Linked DNA regions of Homo sapiens: region 2 is linked to region 1. Evidence: fine-mapped expression QTL. Tissue or cell type: whole blood. Region 1 holds a variant in brackets; the other region holds the start of a gene. All regions are shown on one strand. Distances are from middle to middle.

Evidence for each region. PIP is the estimated chance that this variant, and not a neighbour inherited with it, causes the effect.
Region 2: it holds the start of TRMT1L, and the variant in region 1 is fine-mapped to the expression of TRMT1L in whole blood (INTERVAL, PIP 0.99).

What each region holds. Positions count from the first base shown.
Region 1 is chr1:185,210,331-185,218,516 of GRCh38, reverse strand. It overlaps SWT1 (SWT1 RNA endoribonuclease homolog), which reads right to left. Exons shown (of 19, transcript NM_017673.7): 14 at 3,862-4,010. Among named protein-coding and RNA genes, the nearest start is that of SWT1, 57 kb to the right of the region's middle. The variant C/T (reference allele first, on the strand shown) is at 4,122.
Region 2 is chr1:185,152,905-185,161,090 of GRCh38, reverse strand. TRMT1L (tRNA methyltransferase 1L) reads left to right here and starts at 4,138. Exons shown (of 15, transcript NM_030934.5): 1 at 4,138-4,613. The coding sequence starts at 4,379. It overlaps SWT1 (SWT1 RNA endoribonuclease homolog), which reads right to left and starts at 3,924. Exons shown (of 19, transcript NM_017673.7): 1 at 3,777-3,924; 2 at 166-258. The coding sequence starts at 249. RefSeq lists silencers at 3,532-3,651, 4,392-4,641 and enhancers at 4,192-4,301, 4,145-5,050.

The sequences.
Region 1 (8,186 bases):
CAACAAAGTGAGACCTAGTCTGTACAAAAAAATTTAAAAATTAGCTCAGCATTGTGGCACATGCCTGTGGTTCCAGCTATTCAGGAGGCTGAGGCTGGAGGATCATTTGACACGAGGTCAAGGTCACAGAGAGCTATGAGCTATGATCACAACTCTGCACTCAGGTCTGGGCTACAAAGCGAGACCCTGTCTCCCAAAAAAAAATCTGGAAAATGATAAAGTTAGTTTATCTCCATTTTAGTTTCTCAAAGCAATCAAATAATGAATATTCCTCTCTTCCTGATTTTCTACACTTAATAAATTAAGATTAGGTAGTTTTTACAGTTACTAGGAGATACCATATCTTTGGAGGTAATCTATTTGTTGCTCAAGTTACTGAGACATGACCAAATATATAAGACATATATCAAATCTAATACATTCTATAAAACAACTCCTGTTAAAAGTATATTTTAAAGCATCAGTCCCCAACCTTTTTGGCAACTGGGACTAGTTTTGTGGAAGATAATTTTTCCATGGACGGGTAAGCGGGAGGATGGTTTCAGGATGATTCAAACACAGTCCATTTATTGTGCACTTTATTTCTATTATAATTACATTGTAATATATAATGAAATAATTGGCTGGGTGCAGTGGCTCATGTCTGTAATCCCAGAACTTTGGGAGGCCAAGGTGGGTGGATCACCTGAGGGCAGGAGTTCCAGACCAGCCTGGCCAACATGGTGAAACCCTGTCTCTACTAAAAATACAAAAATTAGCCAGGTGTGGTAGGACGTGCCTGTAATCCCAGCTACTTGGGAGGCTGAGGCAGGAGAATCACTTGAACCTGGGAGGTGGAGGTTGCAATAAGCTGGGATCGTGCCATTGTACTCCAGCCTGGGCAACAACAGAGAACTCTAGAGAGGAAGGGAGGAAGGGAGGGAGGGAAAGAGGGAGGGAGGGAAGGAATATACAACTCACCATAATGTAGAATCAGTGGGAGCCCTGACCTTACAGTCCCATCTGGGATGATGGGAGACAGTGACAGATCATCAGGCATTAGATTCTCATAAGGAACATGCAACCCAGATCCCTTGTATGCACAGTTCACAATAGGGTTCATGCTCCTATAAGAATCTAATCCCACTGCTGATCTGACAAAAGGTGGGGCTCAGACAGTAATGTGAGTGATGGGGAGCAACTGTAAATACAGATTAAGTTTTGCTTGCTTGCTCGCTGCTCACCTCCTGCTATGCCAATACCAGTCATGGCCCAGGGGTTGTGGACCCCTGTTTTAAAGGACTATACTAAATCATAAAGTTCTTCGTTTACTCAATGAATTGTTTCTAACACAAAAATAAAGGTGCAACACTTCAGAGTTCTAATCCTGGAAACAGCGTGGATGGTTTCAAGTAATCACACTAAAGCCAAGTGTTGAGGGGAAAGCACTATTAGGATGCTAGATTCTTTGCTACTCGCCTTCATGAATCTCTTGCTAACGTAGCAAATGAAACTTAAGAACCAGAAATAAATAATTTATTAACAAGTCACTGGTTTTTTTCTTTTCTTTTCTTTTTTTTTTTTTTGAAATGGAGTCTTGCTCTGTCTCCCAGGCTGGAGTGCAGTGGCACGATCTCAGCTCACTGCAACCTCTGCCTCCTGGGTTCAGGTAATTCTCCTGCCTCATCCTCCCAAGTAGCTGGGACTACAGGTGTGTGCCACCATGCCTGGCTAATTTTTGTATTTTTAGTAGAGACAGGGTTTTGCCATGTTGGCCAGGCTGGTCCTGAACTGCTGCCCTTAGGTGATCCACCCAACTCAGCCTCCCAAAGTGCTGGGATTACAGGCATGAACCACCATGCCCAGTCAAGTCAATACTTTTAAGTATGCAATGGGCAACATATACGTAGTAGGCATATCATTATCTGACAAACAATACAAAATTTTAACATCATATTTTCATGGTACCTCCCATCTGTAGGTTTTTATCGATGAAGAGGATTAAAAACTACACATTATTGTTTTTATTTCAATGAATCCTAAATTTTGTTTTATTCTCAATAATCTTAATTAAAAGACTGTTAAGACTTTAAGTATCTTGCACTTTCCATCTGTTCACCACATTTTATTCACTAAGGATATGATTTAGGACTCAATTTTGTGACGGGAAAGGAGAACACATCTTTTCCAACACAATCAAGGTACAATACTCATGCTATAACCCTCTAAATCCCTAGGCCCATTTTTTCCTACTAATAGTTCTAAAAATCACGCTTGCCATTAAAAAAATAAAACTACCAATGTTTTGGTCATCTCAAACCAAAAGATCATATCACCCCTTAAATAAATTCTTTCCTCAAGAATGATCACATATTTCCACTCAGTTTATTTAAAAAGCTGCTTCCTTTACTCCATGAAGTAAGTATTCTCTTAGCAAGGAAGTGCTTTCCTCATCAACTATGATTAATGTTAGTATCATCTAATCCTTTGATTACTTCATAGGCAGGGGACCTATCTGACTATGAAAAATCAATGAGAAAAACCTGGACAATTCAGTTCCTCAGAGAAAAAAGAGAACATAATATCTATACTGGATAAAAGTTCCATTAATATCTCTTTTAGTAATAGTGATAACTGAGGTTTTTTGAGCTGTTTATGCTACATAAAACTCTCAGATTTTTCTAGACTTGAAATTAGAGGCCAGGCACAGTACCTCACACCTGTATTCCCAACACTTTGGGAGGCTGAGGCAGGAGGATTGCTTGAGTCCAGGAGTCAAGACTAGCCTAGGTATTAGGGCATAACTCTGCCTCTACTAAAAATATGAACAATTAGCCAGGTGTGGTGGTGCCATGCCTGTAGACCCAGCTATTCGGGGGGCTGACGTGGAAGAATCACTTAAGCCCAGTAGGTGGAGGTTGCAGTGAGCCCTGATCGTGCCAGGGTGACAGAGTAAAACCCTGTGTCAAAAAAATAAGTCTGTATTACTGGGTACAAAAATTAGAGAGTTAAGTTTAAAAGAGATAAAAAGGCATCAGCTAAGATGGCTGCATAAGAATCACATGAAACTTGTTAAAAACTTCACAAATTGGCAAAGTTTGGATAAGGTTCACAGATAACTATTGTATCAATGTTAATTTCATGATTAATTATATTGTAGTTACATAGGATATCCCTATTTTTAGAAAATACATATGGAAATATCTTGGGGAAAAAGAGCACCTGGGGGAAAAAGGGCATCCTATCTGCAACATACTATCAAATAGCTCAGAAAAAAATATAGATAGGTAGATAGATGGACAGACAGACAGGTGGGTAGGTAGAGAAAGAAAACAATAAAGCAAATGTGACAAAATATTAACATTTGGAGAATCAGGGTAAATAATATATATGGGAATTCTTTGTACTGCTCTTGTAACCATTTTATAAGTTTGAAATTATTTCAAAATAAAAAGTAAAACAAGGACAACAACATTACCAAGTAACACTGTCAAAAAATAGATTCAATAGGGTTTCAGACAGTGTTGACATCTGTATGTTTAAAACAATTTCCTAGGTATTTTTGATGTATGTGAGATCCACTGGCCTAGGGCACTGTAAATGAACAGTCAAATAGCATGCATAGCTTTCTTCCATCCATAAGTGAAAATAATATAAAATAAGAACAACTGCTGTGACACTGCTTCCATAAAAGGAGGTATGGGTTTTATAACTTGTTAGAGTTGCTTACTCTGTATTCAATTCACTTAACATTTACTTAACGCCTTTAGTATGTTAGAATAAGTTAGAATTAAATTATCCTTTACCTACTGTTGTCTGCTAAACACATTTTCAGAACATGTATAATTAGCTACTCTAACTGGCATTCCAAAGGCATCTTACCTCTGCAAATGTCTGAAGGAGGTTGTTTACTTGAGCAAAGGTCTGTGGAAGAATACCATCATAATTTGACCTTGTACTGAAAGCATGTAACAAACTTCTAGAATCCTGAAGCAAGAATTTGACTGTTGTAAAATCCACTGCCTTATTAGCTGGTAACAGAAAATTAAGACAGAAAAATATGGAAGAATGAGTATACATCATAAAAATGTCTTTGGAACACTAATATTAATTTTGAAATTTAAAAAGAGTATACATTTATA[C/T]CTATATGCCACTCCTAAGTTATCCCTCTGGTACAAAAAGCAATAATTAAATAGATTTAGTTATAGATAAAGTCCTTTGAGTTGATTCTGGTATTCTGAATTCAGATTTCAGGAGTTCTGTCAGCACGGTCAACTTCAAAGTAAAAGTAAAGTTAAAGAATATTACACTCCCCAGAAAAAAGAGAAAATCACCAAAGAAACAAGTCAAACCACAGATTTCAATGCTGAGGTGATTTCACATAAGAGTACTGTGGAGAGATCAGAAGAGTGAGACTACACTGGTAAGCATGTCAGTTATATATGGTACCTCTCGTCATCACCTCAGCTATCTACATAGTGATTTATCTTCAACTCCATTGCATGAAACTCAATACTATGTTTATTGAAAACTATGAGTTATCTCTATATGTACAACACAACTTCAGGAGAGAAAAAAAGTTTGGGCAACAGTGAGAAGCAAAAGAAGCCTGCAGAATTTTTTTCCTGTAAATTAAAAGTGAGAAAATCTACAAACAATAATTTAAAGGTATAACAATTTTATCTCAAGGAACTAAAACTAATTACATTAACTTCTCAAACTAGTTGGGAAAGCTGGTGACAATAATTTCAAAAATTTCAAAAGTTATAAACAATAAAATTAAGTAATATCATAAAACTCAGAACAGAAAAAATTATTTCCATTATTAAAGCAGAATGCTACCTAACAGTTTTCAAAATAACCATGCTATACTGTTGTTTACTTTTTGTTTTAATGTTCACAGTTTCAGAGACTCTATTGTATTCTGAAATATCAGCATGGCTGTTCAATGGCACTATGAGTTTAAAAAACAATAAGGAGTTTCTCTGTATCACTTACACAAGAACTTGCTTGTGAAATCCTGAAGGGTCAAGTGAAATAAAAACTATATCTTAATAATTAATTCCACAATATTCAGAAACTCTAATCTAATGTAATGGTTGTAGCCAAGCCTCTGGCTTCTCCTTTATCCAAAAATATAAAAAATAATAATAAAGCAAGCCAATGTATTTCCTTACAGGAAAACTTTCATTTCTTTTTAAAGCCAATGACTAGTTTAAATTCCTGTGGGTAATGAGAGATGCTACACACAGGACAGACTGTAGATGTGATGAACTACGTAAATCCCCTGAGGAAGATATAATTGGACACAACTTCTTTTAAGGGTGCTTTTCCAATGTAACATATGTTTAATGAGGCTTACATATATGAATTAATCATTTTATTTCTGTCTTACAAAAGTTCCTAAGATTATGAGGAAAAGGGTAATAACAATAATAAATCCAGTATACAGACACAACAAAAAAAGAAATCTACATGAATGAAATAGTCTAATGCTTATATAAGGCCAATAATTATTTAAAGCTAATATGGGTAACAAAGTCATAAAAGTTACTAGTCATTTTCCACACAATTTTCTATGAACTAATCTAAGGATACATGCGTGGTATTCTCAAGTTAAACAAATATATAATTCAACAGCTGAAGGTATTATTAAAAGATAGTACACAAGAACATAAACTGTGATTTTTCTCATTCAAAATTATCTTACAGCAAGAAGTTTTTTTTTTTTTTTGAGACAGAGTTTCACTCTTGTTGCCCAGGCTGGAGTGCAATGGCGCAATCTCGGCTCACTGCAACCTCCACCTCCCGGGTTCAAGTGATTCTCCTCCCTCAGCCTCCCGAGTAGCTGGGATTATAGGCACCCACCACCACGCCCAGCTATTTTTTTTGGATTTTTAGTAAAGACAGGGTTTCACCATGTTGGCCACGCTGGCAATGAACTCCTGGCAAGAGGTACTTTTATAATCCCATGACATATTCTTCATAACTCATTAAACGTTAGGCATCAGATTCTTCGAGATCAAAGACCAATAAACTATAATGATCACAAAACTGATTTTTCAGCAGAAGATACAGTCATCACATCTTCACTTCTCTCCTTAATGGCAGTTAGAGCTGCCACCTACCACCTCTCAGCTGCGTCTAAGAGCAGACCCCCCTGCCAGGAAAAACAGATGGAAGATGGCAACTAGACACCTCATTTTTTACACTAACTTTGAGATCACACATAGTTTACGGACTTTCTCTTTTAAAAGATCAACTAAATTATGACCCAGGTAAAAGATATGAAAAGAGATTCTACATGCTTTATTTTTTTTATTTTATTATTATTACACTTTCAGTTTTAGGGTACATGTGCACAATGTGCAGGTTTGTTACATATGTATATATGTGCCATGTTGGTGTGCTGCACCCACTAACTCATCATTTAACATTAGGTATATCTCCTAATGCTGTCCCTCCCCACTCCCCCCACCCCACAACAGTCCCTGGAGTGTGATGTTCCCCTTCCTGTGTCCACGTGTTCTCATTGTTCAATTCCCACCTATGAGTGAGAACATGTAGTGTTTGGTTTTTTGTCCTTGCGATAGTTTGCTGAGAATGATGGTTTCCAGTTTCATCCATGTCCCTACAAAGGACATGAACTCATCATTTTTTATGGCTGCATAGTATTCCATGGTGTATATGTGCCACATTTTCTTAATCCAGTCTATCATTGTTGGACATTTGGGTTGGTTCCAAGTCTTTGCTATTGTGAATAGTGCCACAATAAACATATGTGTGCATGTGTCTTTATAGCAGCATGATTTATAGTCCTTTGGTTATATACCCAGTAATGGGATGGCTGAGTCAAATGGTATTTCTAGTTCTAGAACCCTGAGGAATCGTCACACTGACTTCCACAATGGTTGAACTAGTTTACAGTCCCACCAACAGTGTAAAAGTGTTCCTATTTCTCCACATCCTCTCCAGCACCTGTTGTTTATAAAACCGCTTTGGAGAGATGTCCAATATGTTGCTCCATGTCCTTCATATAATCATATCCCTAATAAACAACTTCTACAACTGAAGGCAATGACAGGAAAGTGCCGTTCCTTAAAAAATTGGTAACTTATAAAAATAGATATTTGGATGGTTGTAGATGTGTGGTGTTATTTCTGAGGCCTCTGTTCAGTTCCACTGGTCTATATATCTGTTTTAGTATCAGTACCATGCTGTTTTTGTTACTGTAGCCTTGTAGTATAGTTTGAAGTCAGGCAGTGTGATGCTTCCAGTTTTGTTCATTTTGCTTAGGATTGTCTTGGCTATGTGGGCTCTTTTTTGGTTCCATACGAAATTTAAAGTATTTTTTTCCAATTCTGTGAAGAAAGTCAATGGTAGCTTGATGAGGATAGCACTGAATCTATAAATTACTTTGGGCAGTATGGCCATTTTCACTATATTGATTCTTCCTATCCATGAGCATGGAATGTTTTTCCATTTGTTTGTGTCCTCTCTTACTTCCTTGAGCAGCGGTTTGTAGTTCTTGACGAGGACCTTCACATCCCTTTTAAGTTGTATTCCTAGGTATTTTATTGTCTTTGTAGCAATTGTGAATGGCAGTTCACGCATGATTTGGCTCTCTGTTTGTCTGTTCTTGGTTTATTGGAATGCTTGTGATTTTTGCACATTGATTTTGTATCCTGAGACTTTGCTGAAGTTGCTTATCAGCTTAAGGAGATTTTGGGATGAGATGATGGGGTTTTCCAAATATCGATCACGTCATCTGCAACAGAGACAATTTGACTTCCCCTTTTCCTAACTGAATACACTGTATTTATTTCTCTTGTCTGAGTGCCCGGGCCAGAACTTCCAATACTATGTTCAATAGGAGTGGTGAGAGAGGGCATCCTTGTCCTGTGCTGGTTTTCAAAGGGAATGCTTCCATCTTTTGCCCATTCAGTATGATATTGGCTGTGGGTTTGTCATACACAGCTTAAGAGCTATTTATTTATTTTGAGATACGTTCCATCAATACCTAGTTTCTTGAGAGTTTTTAGCTTGAAGGGCTGTTGAATTTTGTCCAAGTAAATGGTGTTAGGAAAACTGGATAGCCATATGCAGAAAGCTGAAACCGGATCCCTTCCTTACACCTTATACAAAAATTAACTCAAGATGAATTAAAGATGTAAACATAACACCTAAAACCATAAAAACCCTAGAAG
Region 2 (8,186 bases), 57 kb after region 1:
AATAAAACAATGCAAGTAAAAAACCGGAAAAGCAAATGACTTTTCCTGGATCGGCTGAGCAGAACAAAATATTTACATAAATCATTATAATAGTAAGGTGTATTTTTTTCATTAAGCAAAAATAAATTGAAATGTATCTCTAGGTCAGTAAATCAAAATTCTTACTTTTTCACCAAAATTGGGTGATGAGGTGGTGGTGTCTTTCCTCTGAGATGTCTCTTTTTTCCCACAGGATTCTTTGCTGGACATCCTGAAAAGCTAACATAAACATTAAAAATATAGGATTTGTTTTTGCACTCAAAAAGAAAATAGAAATTTGTCTTCTTTCAGTTATATAAAGATTGGAGTTTTACAATATGATCACTTTTTATTTTATTTTATTTTTTTTTGAGATGGAGTCTCGCTCCATCGCTCAGGCTGGAGTGCAGTGGGATGATCTCAGCTCACTGCAACCTCTGCCTACCGGGTTCAAGCAATTCTCCTGCCTCAGCCTCCTGAGCAGCTGAGATTACAGGCATGTGCCACCATGCCCGGCTAATTTTTTGTATTTTTAGTAGAGACAGGGTTTCACCATGTTGGTCAGGCTGGTCTCGACCTCCTGACCTTGTTATCCACCCGCCTCCCAAAGTGCTGGGATTACAGGTGTGAGTGACCACTCCCAGCACTATGATTACTACTTTTTAACCATTCCCAATATGACAAGATTCTCTCATTATTCCACTTTTCTTCACTTTCATTCTCCTTCAAAATTACCCACTCCTCTCCTTCAGCTTCATCTATCACCTTTCCAGGAATGAGTCTCAAACCATGCCTTGATCCCTGACTTCTCACTTAAGCATCAGATCACCATTTTCAACTGCCTCCAGGACTGCTATATTCTTCACCACCCACACTTCAAAGCCAATTAGTCATAAGTTTCATTTTCCCAAAATACCTTCAGTCATTCATTGAACAAGACTTTGGCAAATCACATGCTTTTTTTAAGTCTTTGTGTCATTACTTGTAAAATAGATAACCCATCCCACAGGGTTTTTGAGGTACTGAAACAATGGATGTAAAATATATCTTGTGGCTGGGCACCACGGCTCACTGTAATCCCAATACTTTGGGAGGCCGAGACAGGCGGATCACCTGAGGTCAGGAGTTCAAGACCAGCATGGCCAACATCATGAAACCTCATCTCTACTAAAAATACAAAATTAACCAGGTGTGGTGGTGCATGCCTGTAATCCCAGCTACTCAGGAGGCTGAGGGAGGTGAATCGCTTGAACCTGGGAGGCAGAGGTTGTAGTGAGTAAGATTGTGCCACTGCACTCCAGCCTGGGTGACAAGTGCGAAACTCCATCTCAAAAATTTAAAAAAATATAAAAAAATATTAAAATACATATATATATGTACATATACATCTTGCATAGGTTGGTACACAGTAATGTCTACATACATACTTGCTTGTATGGTTGTCTTTCTACTAGACACTGAGCTCCTTGAGTGTGCCGTATTAAAAACTTAGGTGCTCATAAATGCCTACTGAGTGAATAAATGAGTGAATTCTTCTTCCTTGGAATATTAACTCTTTCATTCTGAACCACTTCCAATTCACTCACTGTAGTTCCTCTGTCCACCTCCCATCCCCGTCTCACTTTTCCAGCCCTGCTGTGGACCAAGTCAATACTGTTAGTGGATGACAGTATTGTGGACTATCCCAGAAAAACACTTATGTTTATGTTTATTCGGACAAATGTTGTATATTCATACTAGTGTGAAATTCCTATTGATTTTATGCAAATCAAAACATAAATGAGGGGAGACTTCATGTGCTGGCCAGTCTTCAAGATGGCTCCTGATGATTCCTGATGCTTGGTAATCATGCACTTAATGTAATCTGCTACCACAATGAATAAGGCTGACCTGTGTAATCAATAAGATATTACTGCTACATAGTGGTATGTGGCTAAATCATATAAGATATCATGACGTCTGCCTTGTTCTGTCTTGGACTGCTCACTCTAGGGAAAGTCAGAGTGTCATGAGGACACTCAAACAGCCCATGGAAAGGCTCGCAAGGGAAGAACTACTGGCATCTTGCCAACAACCAGAACCAACTAACAGCCAGGCATGTGAGTGTGTTACCTTTGAAGCTGATGATCCTGCACCCCTAATCAAGTGACATGACAGCAGCCCTGGCACATATCTTCACTGCAACCTCAGGAGACCCAAAGCCAGATCAACCCAGAAAGTCATTTCTGAGTTCCTGACCCACAGAAACTGTGGAGTAATAAATGTTTACTGTTGTTTTAAGCTACTATGTTTTGGTATAACTTATGCAGTAGCAATAGATGAATAACATTATTTAATTCTTCAAACATTGACGATTCCTTCTTCAGGATGTCTTACAAGCACAGACCATGCTTAGAAATTCTTACAAAAATTCCCACAGAATCCAGACACTAAAATCTGACCCTTTTAATCTGGTTTCCAGCTGGTGTTAAATGACATTAACATACTGAATCTAGCTTTCAGTTAACCATCTAGTCATTTAGAAATAAAAAATCATCATGAACGACAGTAAAAAAAAAAAAAAGAAATGAGAACAAGAATTATTGGATGATGCACAGATATAGTTAGCATTTCTGTAAGTTATAGTCAGTGTTATCCCATTTTTAATTGACTGTTGAGCCATGAGTCAACTACACATTCAGGAATACTAGATAAAAGCTGTACGGGACGATCAGTAAAAGGGATTTAGGACTATAACTCACAGAAGCTCCACAGGGATAATCTGTTCCCATTAAACTGGGGAGAGGTTAAACACACACACACACCCCTCCAGATATATACTTCTTAACTATAGGGGGAGGAGTTAATTTCCAGTTAGTGCTTCAAAGTGCCAAATAATCATGCTATCTCTTCCCCGGGGTTCTGAAACAAGTAGGAAACAAATAGACCAAGAAGATTGGCGTTTATCAACTTAATTAACTAAGAAAAGCTAACTGGAAGCGCGCGTCTTGTTCTTGAGACTAAATTGGGCTTCCCTCTCCTGCCCTGATGCCTAGAAGGTTCGGACCAAGCCCAAGCAGGGCAGCCAGAAAGTTCACGTTTTTCTCCTTTCTGTCCCAGTGGATTTATCGCGGGGGGACAGAAGAAAGAAACAAGAAAGGCTCGAATGTCAAGTAGGCACTAAGAGTGAAGGGGAGAGAAGTACGGGGGACAGGGGACTCGCTAGCATATGTTTTGGGGATCTGAAACGCATCAAAATTAAATGCCCCGAAGCTCTACCCACTCAGAGCTCTGGTTATTAAAAGCCTGAAAACAAAGCAAAATAGAGCAAAACAACTAATTTCTATCCACTGGCCACACCGCAGAACTGCTGATACTGGCAACATGAAGACTAAAGCAAAAATAAAAACAAAGGAAAAGAGTGTTCGGGTCACGGTGTAGGTGAGGGTGCGAAATGAAGAACAGACCCTAATTCCAAGTCAGCTGGATGGACAGGCAAGCTCGTCAGCTGCTAGTAAACCGCCGCGGGCCCGCGGGCTCCGCACGAACCGACCAGACCCCAACACCGGGCAAGGGGCAGCCCCGGAGGCAAGCCGGGCCAGAACCACACCCTCCACGGAGCTGGCTCGTCCCCGGACCCGCCCACAGAGTCGCCCCGCCCAGGTCCGTGTGACTCCTGAGTCCCCAGTCCGGCCGGCCGCCCGCCCGCCAGTATACTTGGGGCGGGGGACGAGGGGGAACCTGCCCAGCAAAACGTCAACGCACCCCGCAGTTCCTACCTTACCAGCGCCGGCGGCAGTGGCAACTCCGGAGCCCCAAGCCAAAGGAGAGGGACCCCCGCCTCCCAACACACACACACACCCCGCCCCACCAACTGTATGCCTGCTGGGAAACGTAGTTCTGCGCCCGCATCCGCACTACCTACTCACCGCCCCACAGCGCTCGCTTAGATTTGCATTTACTTCCTCCGAGGCTTGAACTCCGGCCCCGCCCCCAGACTGCGCAGTGTATCCTGGGTGCTGTAGTCTTTGTTCGGTTTGGTGGTTGGCCGGTGGGCCGGAGACGCACCGTAGAAACCGAACCCTCTTACCCAATTGGACGCCGTCCCCAGTACGCTTCTGCGCAGTTTGTGGTGGCGTCGTAACGCCTCGGGGAAAGGGAAGCGGACGGGCATCTGGAATCGCTGCCTCTGGCTTTCTGTTTTCTACTAACAGGATTTGGTCACTGGTTCTTCATCTTTTGTCTGTTGCACGCATCCCGCCCTCCCCACTTGCTTCCCCACTCCTTGGATCCAGCCCTGTGGGCATTCACGTCAGTTCTCTGACCCCGCCGTGAGCCCCGCTCCGGGTCCCCGGGCGGGCTTGGCACGGAGGCGGTAACTATGGAGAATATGGCGGAGGAGGAGCTGCTGCCCCTGGAGAAGGAGGAGGTGGAGGTGGCCCAGGTCCAGGTCCCGACCCCGGCCCGGGACTCGGCTGGGGTCCCAGCTCCGGCCCCGGATTCGGCTCTGGACTCGGCTCCGACTCCGGCCTCGGCTCCAGCCCCAGCCCCTGCCCTGGCCCAGGCTCCGGCCCTGTCCCCGTCCCTAGCCTCTGCCCCTGAGGAGGCTAAAAGCAGTAAGTGCAGAAGGCCCAGATCTTTCTGCTGCAGAAGAGAGAAAGTGCGCCTTGCTGGGAAGTAGGGGAGGCCCTTCACCGGGATGGTTTTTATGGGGCAAGGCAGGTTTAGGAAAATGGTGGGGAGGAAAGAGGGGCCCGTGTAGCGGCTAAAGCAGGGTTACAGAATGGGAGACGGCATCTTCATAAGCCTCGAGGATGTCACGGTGAGGGATATGCGGAGAGCAGGAATGCTGCAGATAGAAGGAAATAATGAGGTTAAGGGCTTTTTCTTAAAAGGGAGTCTTTTTAAGGTACAAAAATAGGAAGTTACACATAATTTGGTAGTTTCCCGCAGTCCAGTCTGCCATGGTTAACTAAGTTCTTTCAAATGTGACATAGTAACCGAGGCAACCTGTTTACGGTAGTAGATCCTAGCTGCCAACATTTCTAAACCATTACTGTCAACTAGCTTTTCTGCTTCGACAGCCACAAGGAGATGAGTTTTTCTCATTTCAGTTTTCTTTTCCCCCGCTAGCAGCTTGCCTCCGAAAAGATTTTGAGGCTGAGTAGTAGTTTAGGAAAGAGTCGACTAAATTTACGGATGTTTTCCCCCATACATAAATACCAATTGAGTTTTGTACTCCATTCCATCAGAAATAGACTGTTGAGAATTAATGGCCCATATTATTGTGCTTCTGAATGTGCCTGCATGTTTTCTAAGTGGTGGTTTATTGGACCATATAGGAATTTAAAAGACTGATGAGTAACACTTTCTTAAGGATCTTCTAACATTTTAAAATGTAAGGTCTAAGAAAGACATAATTTAAGTTCTTTTAACATTTAGTTTGTGGTCATAAGTTGACCTTTATGTGCTTTCTGAATTGGAACTTAAAATAATCTTTAATTCATTATTTTTTCTACTTCTAGGCCAGTTTTGAGTTTAATATTTATAAAAGGTTAGATAGTTATAGATAGGATTATTTTGCAGTTTTGAAACAACATACAAATTGTTATAGATTTCAGAGTAGGGCTAATCACAGGAAAGACAAAAGTCAGAATGCTTCAGGTAAGCCCCTTCTCATTATATAAGATCAGAGCTTGTAGGTACAAAATAAGGCCAGTTGTTTCTTCAACTACAGTGGGTAGGGATCGGGGAGGCATGGGGAGCTGAGAGGGTTCCACCCTCCTAAGTAGCCTCCTACCTCACTTCGAAGTTGTATTTGTTTATATTAGTCAGAAGTGGTTCAGCAGCTTTGGGAAATGCATGCATTCTCTACCTCCTCACCATCAAAAATATGTTAAACATAGAAAAGACTTATCTATATATTCCAAAATTTACAAATATGTAATTTGAAGAAGGTATACTATATGGGAAACTGAAAATGCATTAGTAGGACAAATATGTAATGATTGAGAAGTCTGAAATGCATTAGAACTAATACATATATTAATCACATTTTAAACATTATTTTTAGTTGATCTAGTTAGTCCTTTGAAATCAGTCATAACTAGGTAAGATGAAGATAGCCTATCTGAAATAGAATTGAAAATTGAGGAAAAAGTAATAGAATAAGTTGTAAAAGACCCTCCTAGCATCTTGGAGACATCTAATTTAACAAGAAGTTTGCCTGTTGACTTCTGGATTAATAGTGTGTTACAAAAAGCAGATTGAGTATTTTGCATACAGATTGTCTGATACGCACTATCTTAAACCAGAAGGTGATTTCAGAGATGTTTATAGGCATATCATGCATTTTTAAACAGATCTTCAAGAGTTTCTTCAGTAGTAGACCACAGGATTTTTAGTTTTCTAACTTAACCAAGCTCCTTTCTCTTATTTTGTGCTATTTAATAGAATAATTTCAATAGGCACGTCTTTATTGATTGCTGTTTATCTTGTTTTACATACACAGATCTTTGAACTCTGGAACCAAAAGCCTTTATGGTTACAAATTAGATAGGTTAGTTTGTACACATGGATTCATTTCTGGAATATTGCTGTCTGACCTAGCAAAAGATTTTTATGAAACATGAAGAAGTTTTACCTGTTTATAGAAATTATATCTCATTATAACTCATTTGACCAGTATCTGATATAGGAAATTAACCAATATTGTTTGTTGCTTCTTTAAAAATGAGGTGAATAACCAGGCACCAGCCTATACTCCCAGCTACTCAGGAGGCTGAGGCAGGAGGATTGCTTGAGCCCAGGAGTTTGAGGCTGCAGTGAGCTATGATTGAGCCACTACATTCCATGGAGGCTGGGTGACAGAGCAAGACCCATCTTTAAATAATAATAATATGAAAAATTACCTTTTAATAAATTTGAGCAGGAGTGTCTGATAGTGCTGAATTGGATTCCAAAATTATTGACACAGTGTGCTACTGCATCCAAAAAGTCTAACAATTTTTTTAACTTCTTGTTTAACAAACTTTAGTGCCTCCTATCTGCAAGCTACTGCATTAGGCACTTAGCCATCAGAAAGATGAACAAGAAATAGGCCTTGTCTTCTGTTGATTATTTGTGGGGAAAGCGAACAAGGACACAAATTATACAAATGGGTAAACGAACTGATAGTGAAGCTCGGAGAGGAGTAGTCAAGAAGGTGCTAATATCAAGAATTGAATTTTAAAGTCTCAAGGTTTTAAATTGTATAACCTAATAACATAATATTAGAGAGCCCTGTGGTTTATCCCACCATCTCCTGTCTCCTTGGGCTCTTTACATATCAGTTTCTCCTAATCTTAATATATATTCAGTCCCCACTTTGTAATTGTTCCTTTCTCTTGGAATGCACATATATTCAGGTTCCCCATACTTAAAAAAAAGCAAGTTACAGTCTGATTCATTTCCTTTTTTATACCGTCAAACTTCTCAAAAAAAGAAAAACCTAATTTTCTGTATTTCCTTTCCCCTTCCAATTCTGTTTCTACTCTGAAACACCTCCCTGAACCTGTTTTCTTAAAGGTCACCAGATGTGCTTTCTTGATCTCTACAACTGTTTGTGATATTCAGTGTTGAACGTTTTGCGTTTATAGACTCTTCTCCCTTGGCTTCTGCATTACCTTGATTCCCCTTACCATTTATTCTTTCTGAATCTACATTCCTGATTCCTTCTACTTAATTTTTCTTATAAATATCTACATCTCTCATACCTCACTACCAGATTATATCTATCTATAATAATCAGTAGCGGGTTCAGCAACAGGTAGGGAATGTATCCCCTACCCACCCCAGTCAGAACATGTTAAACTTATTTTAGACTTATTCATGTATTTCCAAATTTAATTTAATTTGAAGAGTGTGTAATGCTTGAGAAACCTGAAAATGCATTAGTGGGACAAATATGTAATGATTGAGAAATTTGAAATGCATTAGAATTAAAATATAAATCACATTTTAAAATTAATTTTACATAGCCTAGTTGGTTGTTTGAAATCAGTCATAACTAGGTAAGACTGGGTCTTGGCTTTTTCTCTTATTTTTCACACTTTTTTTCTTAGGCTTTCTTATTTATTCTCATAGTTTCACCTAATGTGTTACTTACGATTTGTATCTCTAGAATCCCTCCTGAGCTCCAAAAACAAATT